4 linked regions of the Homo sapiens genome follow. The protein of the gene in region 3 interacts with the protein of the main gene of each other region in a biochemical or structural test. Each region holds a gene or a part of one and is shown on either strand. Other genes may lie near its edges.

Region 1 (7,547 bases), on a different chromosome or scaffold from region 3:
GGGTGGTTATTTATGTTTGGGTGGCCACTGCACCTCCTGCTTCTGCTGCTGGTGCTCTACAGGAAGCAATACTTCTCCCTTTGTGGGCAGGGCTGGTTGAATGTCTTGGACCTGGCCTGGAGCTGGGGCAAACACAGGCTGCTCCAGCTGCCCCTTCTGCTGCTCCAGGTCCTTCAGCTGCCCCTCCTGCTGCTCCAGATGTTTTAGTTGTCCGTCCTGCTGCTCTGGGTGCTCTAGGTGCTTTTCCTGCTGTTCCAGGTGCTTTGGCTGTCCTACCTGCTGCTCTGGGAGCTCCAGCTGTGCCTCCTGCTTCTCCAGGTGCTTCACCTGGCCCTCTTGCTGCTCTGGGAGCTCCAGTTGCTTCTCCTCCTGCTCCAGGTTCTTTGGCTGCCCCACCTGCTGCTCTGGGACCTCCAACTGCCCCTGCTGCTGCTCCAGATGCTTCAGTTGTCCCTCCTGCTCCTCTAGGTGCTTCAGCTGCCCCACCTGCTGCTCCAGGTGCTCCACCTGCCTCTCCTGCTGCTCCAGCTGCCCCTCCTGCTGCACCAGATGCTTCAGCTGCCCCTCCTGCTGCACCAGGTGCTTCAGCTGCCCCTCCTCCTCCTCCAGGTGCTTTGGCTGCCCCTGCTGCTTCTCTAGCTGCTTCAGCTGCAGCACCTGCTGCTCTGGGAGCCCCAGCTGCCCTTCCTGGTGCTCCAGGTGCTCCAGCTGCCCCTCCTGCTGCTCCAGGTGCTTCAGCTGCCCCTCCTGCTCCTCCAGCTGCTCCAGTTGCCCCTCCTGCTGCTCCAGATGCTTAGGCTGCCCCTCCTGCTGCTCCAGGTGCTTCAGCTGCCCCATCTGCTGCTCTGGGAGCTCTGGCTGCTTCTCCTGCTGATCCAGGTGCTTCAGCTGCCCCTCCTGCTGTTCCAGGTACTTCAGCTGCCCCATCTGCTCCTCTGGGACCTCCAGCTGCCCCTCCTGGTGCTCCAGGTGCTTCAGCTGTCCCTCCTGCTGCTCAGAGAGCTCCAGCTGCCCCTCCTGCTGCTCAGAGAGCTCCAGCTGCCCCTCCTGCTGCTGTGGGAGCTCCAGCTGCCCCTCCTGCTGCTCTGGGAGCTCCAGCTGCCCCTCCTGCTGCTCTGGGAGCTCCAGCTGCCCCTCCTGCTGCTCTGGGAGCTCCAGCTGCCCCTCCTGCTGCTCTGGGAGCTCCAGCTGCCCCTCCTGCTGCTCTGGGAGCTCCAGCTGCCCCTCCTGCTGCTCCGGGTGCTTCAGCTGTCCCTCCTGCTGCTCTAGGTGCTTCAGGTGCCCCTCCTGCTGCTCTGGGAGCTCCAACAGTTGCTCTTTCTTCATTCCCAGTTGCTCATCTCTCTTGACTAGCTCTTGATCCAGTTGCTGGTCTAAGAGCTTCTTCTCTTCTTCCAGCTGTTTGTTTAGCTGCTGATCCCTTTGTGTTTTCTCCTGCTTAAGCTGCTGCTCTGGGTTTTCTGCTTTCTGATATTCCTCATGCTGTTCCCAGTGCTGTTGCTGCAGCTCCTGCTCCTGTGGCTCCTTCTGCTGTTGCTCACATTCTTGCTCAGGCAGTCCCTTTACAGCAGTCATGTGCTTTTCCTCTTGCTTTGATGGGACCTCCACTGGGAGCTCGACAGGCACCTTCTGGCATGGGGGAGGCAGTGGAGTTGGCTGTTTCATTTGCTCCTGATGGGTATTGACTGGAGGAGGAACAGTCTTGAGGAGCTCCTGACTGAGGGCAGGGGAGAGGGTCACTGGCAGTGTGTGTTGCTGGGACATCTTAGAAGCTACTGTCAACCTGAAAGACAGAAGAGGTCTGATGCACAGGCTGAAGGCAAAGGAAATAGATGAAACCTTGGGAATCTGCAGAAGTATCTGGTTTTTTAGCATCCCCTCTTCCCTTGGGCAGGGTACTGTTCTACCACCTCTGGACTATCATTTCCCAAAAGCAGCAGAGAGAGAAGGGTGGAAATGTGGAGGGGCAGAGAAAGGTCCTCCTAGGAGCCTCCTTGTTCCCAGGTGAGAGCCAACAAGGAGATCTGTCTGCAGGGCTGTTCTGCAAGGGTGGGTCAGGTGCCAGCTCACTGTCTGCTCTTGTCTAGTCCTTGTGTCCACCCTCATCGCTTCACTGACCAAGGAGCAGAGATGCGTTCTGGGATTATGTCACAGTGAGGAGTAAGGCCTTAGGGAATGAAATGTCTCTTGGAGAACACCAAGTCCTAGAAAACCAATAGGCCGTGCCAGAGAGGACCTAAGAGGTCATGGTGTGACCTCCAGACTGGAGCCACAGGACATGCTCTAGGCCTGAATCTCCCATTGGAATGCTGTGTGTTTCTGGGCATGTCACTTAGTCTCCTGGGATTTGGTTTTCCCCCCTGTAAAGCCAGCAGGTTGGCCTATTCAACCCCAGGGCTGCTTTCTCTCCTGACCTTCTGAGGTTTAGCTGCAGTCCTTGTGTCTGGGGTGGGGCTGCGGGAGCTGGAAGGTTGCTGAGAGTTGGAGGTTGTTCTTCCAAGTCTTATACTTCTAAGTTGAGTTTTCCTGTCCCAGCTCTGCCTAGGTTTCTCCAAATAGAAAGGTTTCCCCATTCTGCCATCCCTCTGTGCAGCATAGCCAAAAGGTAGAAGCTCTTCCCTGAACCTCTCCCTCCATAAAGAAGGCAAAATGATGGTCTGTCAAAACCCAAGAGGTTTAGGAAAGAAGTTGAATGCTATTCCCCTCCTCCCTTCCATAATTCTCTCTCACACACAAATCCAAAAATATGGTCACAAGAAAAGATGGGACATAGGATGATTACTCTCTGTTCTGCACTTCTGTGCCAAGGCACTTTTCTCTCAGTACTCTGACTCGAGTCCCCCTAGAATGAAAGTCCAGCTGAATCCAGCCCCAGAGTAATGCCCACCCCCACCCAGGCTGCCCACCCCCACCACATCGTATGCTGTTGGAGGTCCCGAGTCCCAACCCTGGTTCTACCATCCGACACTTACCAGACTCACAGTAAGGCTGAGGCAGAGGCTTTGGTGGAGTGCTGAGCTGAGCAGGAGTCAGGGCACTCTTTATATCATTCTGCAGCCTGGCCTCCCTCCAGGTTGAAGGTGATGGACAGGTTTCACCACTCTAGTTGGTCAACTTCCTCTAACCCCTTCCTGACTCACCACAGGCATCTTAAGCAGCAAACCCTTTAGGGCCCCATTTCCCAGGGACACACAGCTCCTGCCTGGCCAGAGGATTCTGGTAGCTCAACTATTCCTGTGATGCTTTTCTGACCTAGGCACAGGGAGCTGAGTGAGGCATCCTACTGTTTTGTGACCTTAGTCAAACTTCTGCTCTGAATCTCAATTTTTCCACTTTCAAAATGAGTTTGTTCTCATTATTAGGCCAAAAGATTCACTTTCAAGGGCATGAAATGGAAAGTTATGTGTCTTTCGGGGATGTCCAGGCTGGGTTATATGTTTGAAGATAGAGTCACTTCCCATGAAGGGGTGGTATTTCTGGGGTGTTCTCTTGGGCCACAAGCCCTTCCTCTCTCAGAATATATTTTTTAACTCCATCCTATGTGGAAATAAACTCTGTCTTTGGTGGAGGGAGTTTGACTTTAGGCCAAGTAGAGTCAAGTAGAAGGCTTCTAGGAGTCCTCTGCTGCTGCCACTTGCTGCCCAGCCTCTATGCCCGAGGCTGCAGTTAGAGAAGTTCTCAGGAATGCCATGCTCATAAGAACTCCAAAGCACGGCCCACTCTAGGCAAGGAAACAAGATTGAATCTACACAATATAAAAATAAGTATTGCTTTTTATAATGACAAACCAAACTACTTTCTTAAGTACTTTTTTAAATGCATGAAGGTATAAAGATCAGAATCAAATCATCCATTTCCTGTTGTAAATCATACTCTAGAAATAGCTTAAGAAATCTTTCAGAGTGGGGATTTGAGCACATCTCTCCCCCGTGCCAACAGTGCACCAGCACACTTGAAATAACATTCAAACTCACTGCCGTGGTTTAAAAGACCCTGGGTACCTGGCTTCTGCCTTCTTCTGGGGCCCCAATTCATGTCAATCTCTCCCTGAGAGGTATATTCTTACCTCACTGAGGGCCTTCGGTTCCTGAGATGAGCCCAGAGCTCTCCACCTGGGGGCTTGGCACCTGCTCTCCTTCTGCCCACCGGCCCCTCCCCAGGTCTCTGGTTCTTTTATGCCTTTCAGCTTCAGTGTCAATGTTGGGGTCTGTCAGAGATCCTTCTCTGTGTACCATATCTAAAGGATTGGTACTTAATTTCACTTATAACAATCTAGAGTAATTTATTTGCATTTGTTCACTTGCTTATTGTCTATCTTTCCCACTGGAAAATAAGCTAAGAGCAGCGTATACCTGGTATGTTTTCCACTATACCCCTAGAACCTATCAAAACTACTGCATATAATATGTGCTCTACAAGTATTCATTGAAGAACAGTGAATTTTACGACCCGAAAATAATGACTATTAAACATTTCAGTGTTGATCAATGTTTATATGTGTGTGTCTGTATGTGTGTGTAAAAACCAAACTGATTTATTTCTTCCCTTTCTTTTTAATGGTTGGCTAATAACTTATTATATGGACATCATTCATTTACACTCTCTTTTTTACAATCTAATCCAAAAAGAAGGAATTATAAAGACAATACTCAGTGGGGCTAATTTTGAGAAGTGTCCTGATTCCCCATAGTTTTCCTGACAGGCACATTTCTCTTAGCCCCAAGTAAATCTATTTAAAGCACTAATTTTGTCATGTTCCTGGATCATGCCTAAAAAGACAGAGGGAGGACTCACAAGGCACCCTTGGTTTCTGCAGTGCTATCCCCTCCTCATGACCTCTCTGTTCCCTGAGCCCACCCAGGGACCTCACATTCTTTTTCCCATAGAACAGGGACTGTGCCATTTTCTGGGGCAGAGGAAGCACAGCCCACTCTGCCCTGAAGAACTAATCAAGCATCCTTACTTTGGCGCTGATGCCCTTGTGCTCTGCTGCTGACTTCATCTGGGGGGAATCTGCCTCTTCCCAGCCCGTGACAGTCAGTCTGGGGCAGCAGACTCAGATCAAGGAAGTCACACCGGTCTTATGGGTTAGCAGGGGCTCAGTATCTGCCAGATCTGCCTCCCGCCCTCTGACTCACGGCATAATAAGAGCCTTAAGGAGAAGATGGTATGTGTGAGCCTTTGACTGCTGGGCAAAGCTAGGGTGTGGGAAAGAGGGCAGTGGATACAGCTGAGGGAGTGTTTGTGTGTGTGTGTATGCAAGGGAGGGGTTGGGGAAACCTCAACATTCTAGGGCTGAGAAGTCCCTTATTCTGCCCACAGGTTGCCCCATTTGGGAGACAGGCATTCACGTATATGGGAGAGGTTCTTTCACTGCCTATGTGAATGACCTCATAAGCTCCAGGTCCACATGACAAGTCTGGGTAACTGTCCAACCCCCACCCAACATAATAAGGATGAGCTCATATCCCATGACACATGGAGAAGCTTTGGCCCCAACTCTGCCCCAGCCTAAGGATGCACTGGCTATTTCAAATTTGGAGGCAGAAGCTGGCTAGTTTGTCTCTCTCCTGAGTGAGGCAACCTATTTGAGCTGTTGCTTAGTGGTAGGGGGCAGAAGAAATTGGTTATGGTGATTCAATGTCCTGTGGGGAGGGATGCTGAGGACAGCTCTTAACAGATTGCCAGAGGGGTCATAGCAGATGGTCCTGGAAGGTGACTTGGGCCAGAAAATCATGCATTCTCATCTTGAATAGCCATGCCTCATCTGCTTCCTGGTATGGCACTGCCCCATGCTCTGAGGCTGCTAGCCTCCTCTCCCTCTCACAAGCCTCCTCCTCTCCCCAGGGCACTGTCTCCTACATCAGCGGCTCTCAGTCCTCAACCTGCCAACCTGCACTAGTTGTCTCCCCACACACTTCTTTTTTTTTTTTTTTTTTTGAGACAGAGTCCACTCTGTCTCTCAGGCTTGAGTGCAGTGGTGCAATCTTGGCTCACTGCAACCTCTGCCTCCCCAATTCAAGCGATTCTCCTGCCTCAGCCTCCTGAGTAGCTGGGACTACAGGCATGTGCCAACATGCCTGGATAATTTTTGTATTTTTAGTAGTGATGGGGTTTCACTATGTTGGCCAGGCTGGTTTCGAAATCCTAACCTCATGGTCTGCCCGCCTCAGCCTCCCAAAGTGCTGAGATTACAGGCGTGAGCCACGGTGCCCGACCTTCCCCACAAACTTTGAATCCTCCTCATCTTTTTCCATTGCTTCCTGGACCTGACCTTGGCTCTTCTCTCACCTTTTGTGCCCGTCTGCTATTCAAGGAAGGGAGATGAGACCAAGAAAGGGCCAAGAGGGCTGACTCATCCTTTTTGGGCTTCTGGGTGGATCTGTCTGTCCTGACCTGCTTTCCTCTCTTACATCTTCTTATAGCTTTCTCTCCTGGGCTTGTTGGATCACTGGATCTCAGTCACCAGTTCTGGCCTTTGTTCTTGGATCTGAGAGCTGTGGAAGGGCAGCCACAGCTCTGCTCTTGGTGGCAGCAAGAGGAGCAGAGGCATAAAGGCTGCCAGTAGTAGAGGAAAGAGACACTCAGTTCCCCCTTCTCCAACTAAAGGAAATTCCCTCCCCTTTGGGCTCATTGTTGGGGAAATCACATTTTGTACAGTTGATTCTCTGTCCAGCAGCAGAATGTCTGAGATGGAGGAGTCCTCAGAGAATGCATGGGAAATGCCTTACACTGCGCCTGGTGCATAGGAGCTTCTCTATTTATCTATCTAATAATAACTAATAATAATAACTTAAATTCACAATATGTAAATTCATAGAAACAGAAAGCAAACTGATGGTTGCCAGGAAGTGAGAGGAGGAGAGAATGGGATGTAGCTGCTAATGGGGATGATGAAAATGTTATAGAACGACATAGAGTTGGTGGTTGCATAATATATGAATGTACTAAACACCACTGAACTGTTCACTTTAAAATGGTAACTTTATGTTATATGAATTGTACCTCAACAAAAAAAGAAGTAATGCCTTTGCCTAATACCAGGTCACAAGGTAAAGTTGTTAATATAATTGATGTATTCATTCAACCAACACTTACTGAGCCTCTACTATGTGCAAGGCACTGGAGATAGGGTTATGAATAGAAAACACACAATCCCTGCCTTCAAGTAGCTTAGAATGCAGGTGCTTCTTAACACACCTATGCCTACTTCTCACCATTGGGGCTCATCTGTCTTCTGACAGGAATTGAAGTCTGGAGAGAACATGAGTTGCCCAAGAGCCTACAGCGAGGCTGTGATAGAGCTGGGCTGGAACCCATGTGTCCTGACCTCCAGTCAGGGGCTCTCCTCCCCATCAGGCTGCTTTGCTAGGTGCTTGAGCATCTGATGGCTGTGACAGGTTCCACTAGGTGACTTCAAAGACACATTCTAGCTCTGTGAGTCAGTCACTTACCTCAACATGGCCAGTTCTGGGTTTTCTGGAGGGAGTGTCAGTTTTCTCTGGCTCTCATTCAGCCAAAATGCCCTTGGGATGACCCTCTTTGGT
Region 2 (3,207 bases), on a different chromosome or scaffold from region 3:
TCTTAGATTATGCAGAGCTTTGGGTGGTGGCACAAAAAGAGAAGGGAAATGGAATATCCAACTCTCTATTACCACTCTTAGTTCTTGAACTCCCCAGGCCAAAGTCTGTATTCTGGCTCCAGTAACTGCTGACCCTATATTACTCATGCCCCTCCTTACTGGCTGTTCCACGTGAAGAATTACTTTTTCATGCAATACTTTCCCTTCTTCTCAATGCCACACCTCTTCCTCCCAACCTGCTTGCTCACTGCCCTTTTCAAGAAAGCCTTCTCAAATGAACAAAACCTGTCACCCGGTCTCTCCATTTCTCCATGACATCCCCACCATCTGGGAAAGTGCTTGCTCTCTCTGTGATTCCAGTCTGGTGAAATGTTGCCTGGTTGGCCTCTGCATTTTTCTCATGTTTGTGTGCATGACTTTCCCATATGCCATGTGGCTCTAGTGTCTTCTTTTACCTCACAAAACACCCATCCAGGTTAGACAGTGCCGTAAACAAGGGCGATCGAGACATGGAGAATTTCAAATGCAGTTTATTGCAGCAAAACAAGGAAATGGGGAGTTTAAGACCTCTCCACAAAAGAAAAACAACTTGCTTACACCTTATGTACAAAACCAAAACAGCACAGAGATAAGATGCTAAGGAGCTGTCCACACCCTGGGTCTAACTGGTCCTACTCTGGCTGGCTTAAGGAGGTGCTTTGAAATGTCATGTGGGTGGTGGTCACTGCTGAACTGTTTCTCAGGGAAAGAACAAAGCAGGGTCATAGCCAGGGGACTGAGATTGCCACTGATCTGAAAACTTCATTGGGAAACAGCAGAAAAGAAAGAGCTGGGGGAATAGGATGAGCTAGTGTAACTAACCATAGCTCTTTTCTCCGGTAAGGCTGGGACAAATCGACCTCGGTCTTGCCAAGCATATTTGTTAGTGATGCTGGGGGAGAACTAGAGCTAATGAAACAGAGGGCATCTCTTTATCTGGTTACTCCGGAATAAGTGGTAGAAACAAACTTCACGCTGGAACTGCCACCAGAGGACTTGACACCCCCAGAGCTGGATCCCCGGCCTCCTATGGAGCCTCCAGAGCTCCCGCCGCCAGAGCCCCGGCCGCCAGAGCTGCCGCCGCCGCCGCCTCCAGAGCCACCTCTGTAGCCCCCACTGCTGCTTCCGGAGCCGTAGCTGCCATGGCCGCCGCCGCCACCTCCAGAGCCATAGCTGCCACCTCCGGAGCCGTAGCTGCTACCTCCGGAGCCATAGCTGCCACGGCCGCCGCCGCCGCCACCTCCAGAACCATAGCTACCACCTCCGGAGCCATAGCTGCTACCTCCAGAGCCGTAGCCACCGCCGCCACCTCCTCGGCTGCCACCTCCACTGATGGTGGTGTGGCTTGTGCTCACAGCTGCAAGAGGAAGCTCAGTTATTTTCAACCTCAACTCCGTTTCCAGCCCAACAAAGCCTGCACATGCCCCTGAGAAATCGACTTGTACTTACACACACTCACGTTCGGGGCACATTCTCCAGACATCCTGTAGGAGAAAATAAGAAAATTCCTCAGGACACTCCAGCTTCCCAAACCGCTTCCCCATTCCCCGCTCCACCACCTTGAAGACTTTCCCCATCTGGGTCTTCTCCAATGCACTTAATCTGAAACTTAATCCAATCCCCTCTGGCCTCCCAGACCTGTCATTTTTTCTCAGCAAGAGTACAAACACGGAGAAATTCCCATATAAACGAGACAAGAGCCTTGCAGCCAATGAAGGCCCCCTCTAAAGATGCCGACTTTAGGCCAGCTGCCATCTGAGGCAGCCCAGATAAAGAATAATTTGCTCCACCTCAAAGCTCTTTCTAGATATGTTACAGCCCTAGAAGAAAAAAATAAACAGCTTGGGACTCCAGCTCCCAAAGTAAAACTAGGTCCTTCCTCCTGCTCCGTGTACTTTTCATTTCCCCATACCCAGCACAAGCTGCAATCAGATGGCTGCATCTTCAACAACAATCAGCTTGCAAGGAAGGAAGACCATGAGAAGAGGTTCGACTCCCAGCGTCCCTTCCTCACCTGCTTTCTTCTCCCTCCAGGAGGGTCCTGTAGGTGGCAATCTCCAGATCCAGGGCCAGCTTTGTGTTCATCAGCTCCTGGTAGTCGCGCAGCAGGCGGGCCAGGTCTTCCTTGGCCTGCTGCAGGGCATCCTCCAGGTCATTCAGCTTGTTCTTGGCATCCTTGAGGGCATTCTCGCCACGCTGCTCTGCATCACTGATGGACTGCTGCAAGTTGGAGATCTGAAAAAGAATATGACACCCTCTCATAATATGCATTCCCCACTAGGCCTCCTCATCCCAATTGGTCTCCCCACTCCAGTGAGGCCAATAATGAGTCCAACAGAACCACTTGGCCTTAAGTCATCTCACACCCACCTCCAGATAACACATCACCATGTTGACTTCCTTAAAAGACCTTAGGGATAACTCAACAGCCTCTCTTGGCCCTGAGTCAAGGCTCCTACAACCCTTACAGACTTGACATTCTTCTAAACACCTACTCTAAAACCTCCTGGCTGCCCTTCCTCTCACTCCCCAACTCTTAAGTCCACTTTGGGTCATAGGCTAGATCACTCACATTGACCATCCCATCTTTCTCTACTAGGCCATTCTCACAGATTTCCCTAAAGAGAACCCAGCATGATGGCTGCATTCTGGAAACTAGCATAGTCACAAAAGGAACCAGGGATAATAATGTAGCCTTGGGATGAATTGCAAGATTCAAAACTAGGAAAGCACTCGCCCTTTACCTGAGGGTTACCCCCATTCCATACAGCTGAGTGGTAGAAGGAGAAAGCACATACCTGCTTCTTGACATTGTCGATTTCAGATCTAAGTCTCTGGATCACACGATTCAGCTCAGAAATTTCTATCTTTGAATTTCTCACACTATCCCCATGTCTGCCAGCAGTGATCTGCAGCTCTTCATACTAAAGATGGTAGATAGCGTTTGTTAAATGTAGGCAGAACTCAGCATGGCACAGGCACACATACATGAGATAACACAGGATAGCAAGACAAGCCATTTCAGGGAAACTGGCTAGGCTTTCAGCCCACTCACCTTGCTCTGGTACAAGGACTCGGCCTCAGCTTTGCTCTTCTGGGCTATATCCTCGTACTGGGCCTTGACCTCAGCAATGATGCTGTCCAGGTCGAGACTGCGGTTGTTGTCCA
Region 3 (7,801 bases):
CAAAGTGCTGGGATTACAGGCTTGAGCCACCATGCCCAGTTTAATTAAGTGACTCTTAATCTCTTTGAATCTTGGTTTCATCATCTGCAAGATAGACACAATATCTTCCCTGCCTGCTCCAGGGGTTATGAAGATGAAATCAGAGCTCGAATGGAGGTCAAGCTTTTAAAAACTGCAAAACCCCTTTCTGGGGTGAGGTAGCTGTTCTTAATACTTATCTCTCATTCTACCTCTCTGATGACATTGGAGCCAAAGGGAAGCAGCTTCCTCCCTGCCACACACACACTTTCAAATTAATTTTATAATTTAAGATGGGGCTCACAGATAGGTGTTATTAGCAATGCAAGGCCTTCTGGTAGCTTCTTATTTTAAAAATTAATAATTCTTGCTAATCGAGTGATAGATTTTTTTAAAAATCATTAAAATTTTCTGTACTGTCTCTATTTCAAATTTATTTTTCCCTATGTTCCTACAGCTCTGTTCCTTAGAGAGTCTCAGGGGGATTTTTTTAGGGTCAGGGATGCTTTCAGCCACAAATTTGAAGTAAACAATTGTGATACCTCACCTATGCACATTTCTTTTTCATTTTCAAGTCATTTTTATGCACATTATCTCACTTAGTCCTTACAGCTCTGACATAGGTAGGGCAAGAGGTGTTACCTTCATTTTTCAAATGAAATAGACAAATTTTATTTTGGCACCCTGACTTTTTTTTTTTTTTTTTTTTTTTTGAGACGGAGTCTCACTCTGTTGCCCAGGCTGGAGTGCAGTGGTGCAATCTCGGCTCACTGCAAACTCCACCTCCCGGGTTCACGCCATTCTCCTGCCTCAGCCTCCCGAGTAGCTGGGACTACAGGCGCCCGCCACCACGCCAAGCTGATTTTTGTATTTTTTAGTAGAGACGGGGTTTCACTGTGTTAGCCAGGATGGTCTTGATCTCCTGACCTCGTGATCCACCCGCCTCGGCCTCCCAAAGTGCTGGGATTACAGGTGTGAGCCACTGCGCCTGGCCCTTTTTTTTTTTGAGACAGAGTCTTGCTCTGTTGCCCAGACTGGGGTGCAGGCACTATCTTGGCTCACTGCACCTTCTGCATCCTGGGCTCAAGTAATTCTCCTGCCTCAGCCTCCTGAGTAGTTGGGATTACAGGCACCCACCACCATGCTCGGCTAATTTTTGTATTTTTAGTAGAGATGGGGTTTCACCATGTTGGCCAGGCTGGTCTCGAACTGCTGACCTTGTGATCCACCTGCCTCAGCCTCCCAAAGTGCTGGGATTACAGGCATGAGCCACTGAGCCCAGCCTGCACCCTGACTTTTAAAGCCCCATCTCCCACTGGCCTTGTAGGATGCCATATATCTCTGGTCCTGCCAGCAAGCAAGGCCATGGGTGGCAGCAGCAGCAGCACTTGGGAGTCTGGTAGAAATGCAGAATCTCAGACCTACCCCAGGTCCCCTGAATCAGAATCTAAGGTTTATCAAGACGTGCAGGTGATTCATGTGCACATTCAAGTTTGAGAACATTGATCTGATCTGGGGATTCACATGAAGACATTACTGACTTAATATCATCTCCCAGGAAAAAAGCTCCAAGATATTTATTTAAAAAAAGAACTCTTGAAAGAGAAATAATTAGTCCCCAAGAATGAGTGATGGGATTCTAGGCATCTGGCCCCTTAGAGAGCTTTCTAGTTCCCAGAATATACAGGATCCCAACTCTTATAATCACACAAAAAGCTGATCTTGTTTTCCAAGCTGTCATAGAATGATGTTTCAGAGAGAAAAAATAAGAAGGAATAATATAAGAAAATAAGGCAACAAACTAAAAACCTAAAGTAGTAATTTGTACATGTTTTCCTTTCATAAAATATGCAAATAAATGTTTACTACATAGCTAGATGATAGCTAATCACACAAAGAAAAATATATCAGGGATGGGTGTGGTGGCTCACGCCTGTAATCCCAATACTTTGGGAAGCCTAGGTGAGTGGATGGCTTGAGCCCAGGAATTCAAGACCAGTCTAGCAACAGAATGAAATGCCATCTCTAAAAACAAAACAAAACAAAACCCCCCAAATCAGCCAGGCGTGGTGGCATATGTCTGTAATCCCAGCTACTCAGGAGGCTGAGTGGGGAGGATCGCTTGAACTCAAAAAGTTGAGGCTACAGTGAGCCGTGATCAGACCATTGCACTCCAGCCTGGGTGACAGAGTGAGACCCCATCTCTTAAAAATGAAACAAAACAAAACAAAAAAGAAGAAGTGAAAAACACATCAATCTGCTAACAACATTGAGTTCTATTTTTCCATATATAATTTGGTGCCCTATGACATTTCGGAGTCACTATAGACTGTCACCTCTGTTCTATTAGTTGAATTACCTTTTAACTATGAAAAGACTAAAACACTATCTATTTGGGCAAAAGTGTATGAAGTTTGTAAGTAGATTGCCTTTACAATATTATTCTTCATTCAATCTATTTAAAAAAATTTTCCCTGCAGTGCATTCCAAGACTACTTCATCAAATTGTTAATAACCTTAGACTTCAATTACACGTTGGCTTCACTTGGTGAGATTAGAAAAGTTTCATCAGAAACTGAATTAGTAATTCTAGAATCATATCTTGTAAGAGCTTTAGAGAAGATACAATACAAATTCTTTTACCCATGGAGAAAATGAAGCTCAGAGAAGAAATGTGATTTGCTCAAGGTCACACTCACAGTTTGGGGATTATTTGAGGCTTCATCTGAAAAACTCTTATTTCATCTTAGTTGTAAAGAAACCTGAACAAAGCCACAAACATCCTAAACTTCTGGTTTTCATGTTCAACCACAGCCTTTCCACAGGGACAACTTATGAATCAAGATTTTGGCTCAGACTTTTTCCTGAATGGCATCAACTCACCTTATCAACAATCTCCTGGATTTCTGGAGTGGCGGGTTTGGCCTCAGATAAGCCTCCAGGTATCATTTTGGCTGATTGCTTCTTTGCTGGACAGGATGCTGGAACCAAAGTGAACAGGGAAGTGTGGAGACTCGTGTTTTAAAAGAGGCGTTCACTAGCTCCGCCTATAGAATGCTTTATTTTCCACAAACAGCAAAGAGGCATGGGGAAAATGAGTATGCCGCCAGGCAAGTCTTCTTGCTTCCTGGAGAGAATATGCTACATGGAATTTGGAAGAAAGAGGGGTTGGAGGATGAACAAATGGGCAAGTACAGGAGTCATGTCCTAACAAGCATCAAACGTCCCTGCATTCTCTTTGACAATGGTTCCATCCTGTTGCATCATCTGAATTATGAAATCTGAAGCCGCAACTAGAATTTCCAAATGTTTTAAAACTTCTAACACAAAATTTTATTTTTTTTAAAGCAAAACTTACTAATAATGTCAAGGTTAGTTTAGAATTTACTTGACTTTAGAAAGAAAGCAAAAGGATCTATCTGGAGGACCTTGGCTGGATGTGTCTTCTTTACTCTTATTTAAATATCTGGAAATGTTTAACATACGGTAAAACACAAAGAATAAAATAACAAACATCTATATTTCTATCACTCAGAATTAAAACTTTTAACCCTTTTGTCATATTTGCTTGCTGTTTTTTATTTTTGTAGTTATTTTTAGGAAATAAAATATTACAGATATGGAGGAAGCCCCACACCCCACGCAACCTTGCCTTCCAGAAGGCAAAGTACATGGTGAATTAATATCCTTCCAGGCCATTTTTATATGTGTGTCTTTAAAATTAAAATATGTCTTACTTGGTGTGTCTTTAAAATTTCACTTAAATTGTATGCTAAATATATTCTATGTTATGTTCCTTTTTCTATTCAACATGTTTTTGAGCCTTTCTATGTTGATATACACATAGATCAATCCACAGATAGATCAATCCTGTTCATTTCCTTTAACTGTGATATGCTATTTTATGCTAGACCTATCTATTTAGTCTACCTATCTAATTGCTATATTCTAGTTCATATTTTACATACTCATTTCTCTATTGATGACGATTTTCGTTGTTTCTGGTGTTTCATTCTTACAAACAACGTTGCATTTTTTCTCCTTTTTACATGAGTGAGGGCTTCTGCAGACAACTTATCTAGAAGCAAAATGGCCACATTGTGTGAATATTTATGTATATTATTTTATTCAATTTTGGGAATATATAATACATACACAGGATAAAAATGTTTGGAAGGAACCAGGCTTTACAATATAAGGAATTATTCACTCACTTAATTCCTCAGACACCCTTCTACTCTCCAGAGACAATTATTGGCACCAACTTCTTCTGTATCCTTCAGAGACATTCTTTACACATACAAATATAAAAATAATTGGAGGCTGGGCACGGTGACTCACGCCTGTGATCCCAGCACTTTGGGAAGCCGAGGTGGGTGGATCACAAGGTCAAGAGATTGAGACCATCCTGGCCAACATGGTGAAACCCCATCTCTACTAAAAATACAAAAATTAGCTGGGCGTGGTTGCGTGCGCCTGTAGTCCCAGCTGCTCAGGAGGCTGAGGCAGGACAATCGCTTGAACCTGGGAGGCAGAGGTTGCAGTGAGCCAAGATCGCGCCACTGCACTCCAGCCTGGTGACAGAGCAATACTGTGTCTCAAAAAAAAAAAAAAAAAAAAAATTGGCTACACACACACGCACACACACACATAGATACATATTCATCTATATAGGTTTTCTTTTATAAAAATGGTATCCTACATAAATTATTATACTTTTTGTTTTATTCCTAACAATATATTTTGGAGACTGTTCTATATCACAATACAGGGAGGTGCTTGTTTCTTTATAATGATGTTTGGTGGGTGCTTGGCAAACTCTTGGAGCTAAGTGAGTGTCTTACAGGCTAAACTAAGGGGTGCTACACAAGTATCTCTCCATAGAATGCCTTTACCCTGTGGATTAAGAAGAACAGCGAATGTGGATGACAAGGTGCTCCCTCAAGAGGCCACAGGTCATCTGAAGACTTTGGCTCAGCTTTCATAGGCCACTGGTTCTACTCATCTTCATGTGACCTCCCCAAGTCAAGTCCTTTCATATTAAGGCCCCTGACGTTTTTCCAAGCCTGAAGCCCATTTTTAGTTGTCTGCTGACATCCTAGTCCAGGCCATCCTTATTGAATCTCCCCAGTGGTAAGAGATATGGTAAACCACAAGTCTACCCTTCTCTTTCTAGGGTCTATGCCCTGTACTTTCAGCTTTTTCCTATTGATTCTCAATAATTTATTTTAGAAGTAAAAACTTCCCCAAAGCAAATATTGCTTTTGTGTTTTGTATTCCTCCTATAACAATCCTAGTTCTTCTCAAGAGTAGTATGTGTGCCTCTGATTGACAGGGAAAGAGTCGCACACAAGGAAGTGCAAAAGAGAAAAGCACAATTCATATCTCTGTATTAATTGTTTACTTAAGTTAAACAAACAGTTGATTAAATACACATTTATTTTAAAGGTACCTTTAAGATTGCTTTTTGGATTTTTTGGTATGAATTATGCAGACTGTGTTTCTGGAGCTAGATATCCTCATATATTTCATATTTCTTGTCTGTGAGCTCATCTGCCACAGGAGTTATCTTTTATGTGAGTTTTCTCTTTTGTGGCTGGTTTGTGGGGCTTTCCTATGGGGTGGTTTCCGCTACCAGGTCCTAGGAGGTACACAAGCCCCAGCCCAGTTCTTACTTTACTGTTGGCTTAGAGCTCTTGCACCATAAAGATACTGAGAATTTGGGCTTGTCTCCAGCTTTAGTTACAGGCCTGGGCTCTGAACTTCCCCAGCTAATTGCGCTTCTACCCATTGCCAGGAGTAGATGTGTGGATGCATACACTTACCATGCAACCCACCGTTCCTACTGCTAGCTATTTCCCCAGGAGAAATGAAATATGTCTGCACAAAGACTGGCATATGAATGCTAACAGCTGCATTATTCATAATGATTCAAAACCGAAGAAAACTCCTTGTCCATCAACTGGTGAATGGTAAGAATAGTTGTGGTAGAGTCACAGTATAGAATACTACTTAACAATAAAAAGGAACAAAATAGTAATACATTAAATCACATAGGTAAACCTCAAAAACAAGACAATGTAAGAAGAAGTGAAAGAAAGCAAACACAGGAGGCCATGGACTATATTATTCCATTTAGATGAGACCTTAGAAGAGGCAAAATTATAGTGACAAAAAGGAGATCAGAGGTTGCTTGAGGCTGAGGTGAGGGATGGAATGCACTGTAAAGGGGCGCAAGAAAACGTCTTAGGGAGATGGAATTGTTCTATACATGGATTGCGATAGTGGCTACACAACAGTATATGATTACCAAACTTCATCAGATTGTGCACTTAAAGTGGGTGGTCTTGTTTCCACACCAAAAAAATAAAAAAATAAAAAAGTGGGTGGACTTTATCATATGTAAGTTACACCCCCAAAAAGCTAGAATATAAAAGCACTGCCTTTTGAATGCCTTCTTTGTGTGTCTCTTGGTCTCGCTGTTATACTTCTTCCTCTAATGTTTTTCATTAGAGTCTTAACTCCTACTGCACCAATACAGTGCTTTAAAAATGACTGTGAAGGCCCTATTTGAAGTGTGTGTTCAAGGGAGGACATAGTTATTCCTCCTGGCTATCCTTGTGGTGAAGAGGGAAAGTGGGGGGCAGGGTTGACTGAGGACAGGTCATGAAAAACAGGTGAACGATCTTACACTTTAGTTGTTAGGTAATGGAGGTCACTGAAAAGTCAGAGCTATAGAGAAGCCATTTGTGCTTTAGGAAGATAAAACTGGAGGCAATGTGTAGACTGGTATATTAGGAAAACACGAACTAACTCCCTCTCTTCTACTAAACCCTCAACACTCAACATGCTCTGGCCATCATAGTGCATGGAAGCTGAATCCCTGTACCCGCATTGTTGTCTGGCTTCCTGGCTTGAGAAAAGCAGAGTTTCTGTTCCATGTTGAGGAGGGGAGAGACAGTGCAGCCAGCGGGATGGCAGGAGAGCAGCCCATACTCCATGGCGAGACCCCTGCTGCGACGCCAAGCCTGCAAAAAACTAACTGGACTTGCTAAAAGCTTAGCATGAGGGTATTTATTTTTTTCAGGGTCAAGGAAGAGCACACTAAGTTCATGCCTGAATCACTGTGGAGCAAAACAGAGTGATCAGAAGAGAATCAAGAGAGCCAGACCTTAGAGATCAGCCAAACTCTTGGGGAGGCCTAGGGTTTCCCTTCTCTAAACTGGAGGACGAGGTAATTCTACCCACATATTTGTGGCTGGGGACTTCCTAGTTCTTATTTGGGTTACACGTATTTTAGGAGTCCAGGTGGAATTTCTTTTCCTTTTTGAAAACTGAGGCATAATTTATGCATAGTAAAATGCACGAATTTTAAGTGCACAGCTACATAATATGTTCCCACATTTTTTACAATTGTTATATATAGAACATTCCATCACCCCAGAAAGTTCTCTCCCATCACTACAATGTGCTCAACCACTAGTTTTGCCTGTTTTTAAATTTCATATAAGTGGAAGTATGATGTAGGTGCTCTTTGTTTCATCTGCTTAGCATAATGTTTTTGATATTCATCCATGTTATCAGATTTATTAGTAGTTTGTTCTTTTTTATTGCTGTGTAGTATTCCAGTGTAATAACATGCTATGTTTGTTTCTTCAGTCTCCTGCTGATAGCATTTGGATTGATACTAGTTTTTGGCTATTAATAAATCTGCTATCAACAAGTCATTAGTCTATATATCTAGGAGTGGAAATTTTGGGACAAGGGCAAAGTGTATGTTGAA
Region 4 (7,027 bases), on a different chromosome or scaffold from region 3:
GGAGGAATCTCAGGCATAAACCAGTGAAATTCTAAAGAGCAGGAGTTTCGCAGCATCTGTAACATCATCCTTTCTATGTGGTGTTGAAAAGATATAGATTCCTGGGAAACATTAATGAGAAGGAAGTGGGGAGCTGTAGTTGCAGCCATAAGGGTTGGCTGGTCACACTGGTAAGGCCGACAGTAGCCAGGTCAGGACTGATGGTGGATTGGAAAAAAAAGACCTGCTTATGGTTTATGTAATGTTTATTTATTTTTTGTGTTTTGTGTTTTTCCTGGTCCTTGGCCAAAGGCAAGATTTCCATATTTCCATTTCCTGGTGAAAAGGAGCTGGCAGCACTGGGGCTGATTATTGGATTTGTAATATGAAGCCCTAGCAATGTGCCTCCTGTTTCCTCCCCCCGCCCTGCTCTCTTTCACCATGGGACCGTTTCCCCTCTTCACTGGAGAGAAGAAGTCCCAATTCTACATCCATTTCCCCAAAGCATCCAGGAGCCCAGAAGTCATAGGAACCAGAAACAAGTGGAGCAGAAGGAACTCTTTATTGGAAAGTGGATGAGAGAGGCAGCTCCAGCCGTGGGCATCCTGAATGGGAGGAAGAATGGACAGTGTGGGAAGGGGAAGGGCAGCAGGGACTTAGGACCAGATGGGGCCTGTAGCTCTGGGGACGGCACAGGTGCAGCAAGGACCGGCTCCCTCTGTGGAAGAGAAGAGTATCAGAGGTGAGAGTCAGCACATCAAAGCACTCAGAGGCAGTGAGGAAGACAGATCATCCTTCTAGGCACTCTGGTTATAGCCTCTCAGACCCCTCAGTCTCCCAGTCTTTCTGTCACCTCCCACAACCTCCCTCCCACCAACCTGGGATGCTTCCCCACCGCTCAGCCTTCTTTTGTGTCTTCAGGGGTCTCCTCGTTCTCCAGCTAGTGCTCACCTCACTGGGGAACGAAACAGGCCATCCCGCAAGAGCCTTCACAGCACTTCTTGATTCCTGGGCAGTCAGTATCTTTCAAGCAGCGGTTAGGGGGATTCAACATGGCGCACCGGATCAAGATAATGGGGCAGGAGCCAGGCTTAGTGGAGACTGGACCTTTGACTGGCTCTTGCGCTTTGACTTTATCTTGACCTTTAACTGAAACTTGTCCTTTAACGGGATCTTGTCCATTGAATGGAACACGGCCTTTGACAGTGTCTTGACCTTTAACAGGAACTGTTAAAAGAAGAAACGAGCCCACATTTATACCCAGTAAGCCTCTGCTTCAGCTGCCATGTCTTTCCTCTGGGTCTGGGTCCATCCACTGCTTACTGCAGCATCCTCAAACCATGGCCTGAGTAGGGAAGGTACACCTCTGGGAGCTACACTCTTGGAAGGCTCTTCCTTTTTTGGGGTGGTCTACTGGACCAGAGTTCCCTTGAGTATTTGTTTCTTCCCCCTTCCTCCACTCCAAGTCTCTCAGGAGCAGTGGTCAGACTGGGGTGACACCCAGCAGTGAAGAGGACACATTGTCATTTGTTAGGAAGTGCATTGGAGTAGGAAAGAACCCTGAGCCACATACTAGGAGACTTGAGCCCCATCCTGGCTCTGGGAATTACCTTGGCAATTGCTCACTCATTTCTACATTTTTGGTTCCCTCCTTATAAAATGGGGGTCCTCAAACAACATGATTCCTGAAGGCTTGTTGTTTCTTAACCTCCTTTTAGAGTACTGATTACTCCAGTGCTTTTATGGGGCAGAGAAACGGGGGACTGTGTCCACACCCAAGGTTTAAAATCCTGGAGTTCATTATTTTATTGCACATTCTGCACAGGTATTGACATCTGAGGCCAAGGCCACATACCAACATTACTTCCACAAACAGTCCTGATATCTCAGTCACTGAGGTGGAAAGCACGTGGAGTCCACCAGCCAAAGTCCTATTTTTTCTGAATATGATGGCAAAGAACAGAAAGCTGAAATCTGGGCTCCAGTGCTGCCTACTGCTTCAGAAGTGCTCCCTGTCCTGGCCCAGGGTGTCCCAGAGGGTCTCCCCTTAGTCCAACCCAGCCCAGCAGGTCACCTGTTCACTCACCTCCCGTGACAGCTGCCTCTAGAACCAGCGTCCCAGCGATGAGGAACACCACCACGATCAAGAAGCTGCTGGCCCTCATGGTGTCAGGAAGGTGTTTGGCTAAGAGCTAAGGCCATACCAATCTTTATGCAGTCCAGCTTGGCCTGGCTCCAGGGGCGGGTCTGTGGTATTTACAAGGGATAATTCCTTAGCTGTATTGGGAAATATCCACCCCATTCTGGGAGGGACCTGGGGGCTTTCCCTCAGGATTATTCACAGGAAGAACTAATGGACATTACATCACATCATCTCTGATTGTCCCAAGAGTTTTCCTACTTTCTCACAGAGTAGAAGTGCTGGCTCACTTATTAGGTAACATTACAATGAAATTCTTCATGTTTTGAAATACAGTGAGACCCAAGAAGAGAAAGGAATCACCGAAGGTTATTCAGCAAGTCACTGGTAGATCCAGTCTTGATTACAAAACCAAGGTGTTTCTCCATTATGCTCTGGTGCTACAAACCCCACCCAGATCTACTTTATCATTTTACCACTCCCAGCATCAAACTGGGCATTTCCTTCCTTCTTCCCTGGTCCTGCAAAAAACTCTGTAAGACAAATTTGCCTTGAATACATAATGACTAATTATTGCACTTTGCTGTTTCAGAGACGGCCTTTCAGATGCATCAAGAAAGTAATTGGAAGGTGGAATTCTAGGTCTGAAGAGGGATGATGCCCTTGAAATCACAGTGGTAGGGAGAAAATAATCAGAAAGTAGTAGAAAACATGTATCATGTATACATTGGACATCTACAGTGTGTGTGTCCAGCATGCCTCCCCACTTCTTTGAACAGCACCCTGTTTCTTGTGAAGAATTGTTGTCTCTTTGAACCATCAACTTGTGAGTCTAATGGGGACTGCTAATCATGAAAGCCTGACCCCTGACCACAGGTAGGGGTGTGTGTGTGTGTGTGTGTGTGTGAGTGTGTGTGTGTGTGTTGTGTGTGAGACTTGGTCTGGTCTATTAACATATTTTATTTGAATGAGTAATGAAAGGGGAAAACGGGGGTTCCTTCTTCTGGAAAAGGTGATATATATGAACCAGGGAATTCCAGAAGTGGTTATCTAAGTCTGGGGGTGGAGATCAATTGTCTGAGAAAAACGACTCTAATACACTGAGACAAGGAGAGAAGTGATGGTGAGAGAAGATTCAGATGACACAGCCAGGTTTCCCTCCTTTACCTTGAGAGCAGTTCTTCACACACCCTTCTCATGGTTGGGTTATGAGGCAATAAATTAGCCCTCTGCTTCAGCTAGTCTGACTTACTATTCTGTCATTGTTACCAAAAGTTCTGAGTAATAGAAATGAATATCCTGAAGTTGGGTATTGTCAGGGACAGAATCTGAGTTAAGAAAGTCACTGAGTTGAGGTGGAGTTAAGGCAGGGAAGGTAACAAACTAATTATTGGACACTAATTCAGCTGGTGAAATCCCCACCCCTTGTCGATTTAGACTCTGACCACATGCCCACCAAGCCTGAAACTGAGGGAGACATAAACGAATGTCAGACTGTGGAAGCCTTTGGCTACCTTACACAAAAGCTCATTGTACAATAAGCCATACAAACAAATAAAAAGCTCACAGAAAATACCTATATTCTTTAAAGAATAGCATTAAAATGAGCTGCCAGGTAAAGGAGGAGAATATTTGCTATATCTATGCTCCATGCCTCTCCTCAGTTGCTTCATTCTCCTTCCTCCCCAGAGATAACTGCTTCCTAAGATTTTATGGTAATTAGCCCTTGCTTTCCTTTATAGTTATGCCACTTCTGTCTGTATTCTGAAATATATATTCAGTTTAGTATACTTTTTCAATTTGTATGTAAATGAAATCTAAGGTATAGTGTTCATATGTCCTGCTTATGTTGCTCAACATTATATTTTTGAGAGTCATCCATTTTGAAGTCTACACCTGTAGTTCATCATTTTCACTGCTGTACAGTATTCTATGAAAAATACCAAAAATGTTATATATTCATTCTACTGTCAATATACATTGGATATTTCTAGGTTTTAGCTATTATAGTGTTGCTATGAATATTCTTGTACATATCTCTTGCAGAACATAGGTATGCATTTATTTTGGATATATGGTTAGGAATGGAATTGCTGGATCACAGAGTACAGATCACAGAGTATAGATACATCCAGCTGTCATAAATACTGCAATCAATTTTCCAACATCATTGTACCAATTCACACTGCTATCAGCAATGTGTGAGCATTCCATTTGCTCCATAATCTCACCAATGCCTCATATGATTTGCCTTTTCATTAGCCATTCAGGTGGACATCTTGTGGGATTTCCTGTGATTTGAATTTACACTTTCCTAATAACTGGTGAAGCTGACCCATTTTTAATACTCCTTTTTTTTTTTTTTTTTTTTTTGAGATGGAATTTCGCTCTTGTCACCCAGGCTGGAGTTCAATGGCACAATCTCAGCTCACTGCAACCTCCACCTCCCAGGTTCAAGTGATTCTCTTGCCTCAGCCTCCCAAGTAGCTGGGATTACAGGCACATGCCACCATGCCCAGCTAATTTTTATATTTTGCAGTTTCACCATGTTGGTCAGGCTTGTCTCGAACCGCTGACCTCAGATGATGCACCTGCCTTGGCCTCCCAAAGTGCTAGGATTACAGACATGAGCCACTGCACCCGGCCCATTTTTAATATTTCTATTATCCATTTGGCTATCCTCTTTTGTGAAGTGCCAATTCAAGTATCTTACCTTTTATTTACTTATTTATTTAATTTCAACTTTTATTTTAGATTTGAATGGGTTGTTTATCTTTTCTTATTGATTTGTAGTAGAAAAGAAACTTTTATGCATTACTAATGAGAGTCTATATTGGTGAAACATTTAAAAACAGTTTGACATCAGCTAGTAAAATTGAATGTGTACACAATCTATAATTCAGCAATTGCACTCCTAAAGATTTAATTAAGGAAAATATTTCCACATGTTTACCAAGAAACATGCACAATAATGTTCATAAAAGTACTGTTTTTAACAATAACATACTGGAAACAGTCCATGTTACCAATACTAAAATACTGGATAAATATGTCATGACATATTAATGCATAAATATGTCATGACATATTAATGCAAGGAAGTATTATACAATTATGAAAATAACTGAATTACAGCCATGCACAATATGACCATAATTAAAATAATGTTGAATAAACAACACAAGTCCACAGTGACAATATTTAGAATTACCCACTTGTCATAAAACTCAAATGAAGGAGAACTGGGAAATATATTGCCTAGGCATATTTACATATGAAGCAAAGCTCAAAAAGGGATACATAAAAAATGAAAAAACTATAAAAATGACATACAAGATAGTGGCTAACTCTGGAAACGAGAGAAGAAAACATTCTGGATGGGTGAGAAGGACACGGGTTGATTTAAGTTGTTGGTTATTAGTAATGTTCTAGTTCTTTGATTGCTTGGAGAGAGAGAGAGAGAGAGAAAGCTGCAGAGCGAATCATTTATAGACTACCTTAGCTTTCAATAAACCCACATTGCTACCCTCGCAAGTTGTTTCCAATATTTTGCCATTACAAACTATACCACATGTGGCCTTTCTTAGCTTGCTTTCTTGTGAACCAGATTCCCAGAAGTATATTTGCTTATACAAAGGTGAAATGCATTTGAAATTTTGATAATATTGCCATATTTCCCTTGATAGGGGTTGTACCATATTGTAATCCCACCAGTAGTGGATAAACTTGCCTGCTGTTTCCATCAAGCCTCATGAACAGACTGTGTGTCTAATTTTGGGGTTTTATTTTTAACTTTTATTTTAGTTTCAGGGGTACATGTGCAGGTTTGTTGTATAGGTAAATTTCATGTCATGGGGGGGTTCGTGTGCAGAAGTATTTCATCACCAGGTAATCAGCATAGTACTCGATTCGTGTTTTGATCCTCACGCTCCTCCCATTCTCTACCCTCAAGTAGGCCCTAGTGTCCATTGTTCCCTTCTTTGTGTCCATATGTACTCAATGTTCAGTTTTCATTTATACGTGAGAAAATGTGGTATTTTCTTTTCTGTTCTTGTGAAAGTTTGCTTAGGATAATGGCCTCCAGCTCCATCCATGTTGCTGCAAAGGACATGATCTTGTTCTTTTTTATGACTCGTAGTATTCTATGGTGTTTACATACCACATTTTCTTTATCCAGTCTATCATTGATGAGCAATTAGGTTGATTCTATGTCTTTGATACTGTGAATAGTTCTGTGATTCACATACTACATGGATGTGTCTTTATGATAGAATGATTTATATTCCTTTGGGTATATAACCATTAATGGAATATCTTGGGTTGAATGGTAATTCTGTTTTAAGTTCTTTGAGAAATTGCCATACTGCTTTCCATGCTGGCTGAACTAATTTACATTCCTACCAGCAGTGTATAAATGTTCCCTTTTCTCTACAACCTTGACAGCATATGTTATGTTATAACGACTGGTGTGAGATGCTATCTCAATTACTGTTTGGATTTTCATTTCTCTAATGATCTGTGATGTTGAGCATTTTTTCATTTGTTTGTTGGCAACATGTATGTTTTCTTTTGAGAAGTTTCTGTTCATGTCCTTTGCCCACTTTCTAATGGGGTTGTCTGTTTTTTGCTTGTTAACTGGTTTAAGTTCCTTATAGATTCTGGATATTAGACCTTTGTTGGACACATAGCTCACAAATATTTTCTTCTATTCTGTAGGTTGTTGGTTTACTGTGCTGATAGTTTCTTTTGCTGTGCGGAAGCTTTTTAGTTTAACTAGGTCCTATTTGTCAAGTTTTGTTTTTGTTGCTATTGCTTTTGGCATCTTCATCATGAAATATTTACCAAGTTCTACGTCCAGAATCATATTTCCTAGGTTACCTTGCAGGGTTTTATAGTTTTATGTTTTAC

Evidence for each region.
Region 1: the proteins of CSTA (region 3) and IVL form a complex in vitro, tested with the Homo sapiens proteins (one study listed by BioGRID).
Region 2: the proteins of CSTA (region 3) and KRT1 form a complex in vitro, tested with the Homo sapiens proteins (one study listed by BioGRID).
Region 4: the proteins of CSTA (region 3) and PI3 form a complex in vitro, tested with the Homo sapiens proteins (one study listed by BioGRID).

The regions. Positions count from the first base shown.
Region 1 is NC_000001.11:152,904,015-152,911,561, reverse strand, and holds the start of IVL (involucrin), read right to left. Parts: upstream 3,017-7,547; 5' UTR 2,973-3,016; intron 1,784-2,972; 5' UTR 1,765-1,783; coding exon 7-1,764; 3' UTR 1-6. UniProt on the Homo sapiens protein: Part of the insoluble cornified cell envelope (CE) of stratified squamous epithelia.
Region 2 is NC_000012.12:52,674,222-52,677,428, forward strand, and holds the end of KRT1 (keratin, type II cytoskeletal 1), read right to left. Parts: coding exon 3,095-3,207; intron 2,964-3,094; coding exon 2,838-2,963; intron 2,275-2,837; coding exon 2,054-2,274; intron 1,524-2,053; coding exon 1,489-1,523; intron 1,397-1,488; coding exon 972-1,396; 3' UTR 515-971; downstream 1-514. UniProt on the Homo sapiens protein: May regulate the activity of kinases such as PKC and SRC via binding to integrin beta-1 (ITB1) and the receptor of activated protein C kinase 1 (RACK1). In complex with C1QBP is a high affinity receptor for kininogen-1/HMWK.
Region 3 is NC_000003.12:122,320,459-122,328,259, reverse strand, and holds the start of CSTA (cystatin-A), read right to left. Parts: upstream 3,013-7,801; 5' UTR 2,968-3,012; coding exon 2,902-2,967; intron 1-2,901. UniProt on the Homo sapiens protein: This is an intracellular thiol proteinase inhibitor. Has an important role in desmosome-mediated cell-cell adhesion in the lower levels of the epidermis.
Region 4 is NC_000020.11:45,170,040-45,177,066, reverse strand, and holds PI3 (elafin preproprotein), read right to left. Parts: upstream 2,166-7,027; 5' UTR 2,145-2,165; coding exon 2,066-2,144; intron 1,207-2,065; coding exon 932-1,206; 3' UTR 931-931; intron 698-930; 3' UTR 523-697; downstream 1-522. UniProt on the Homo sapiens protein: Neutrophil and pancreatic elastase-specific inhibitor of skin. It may prevent elastase-mediated tissue proteolysis.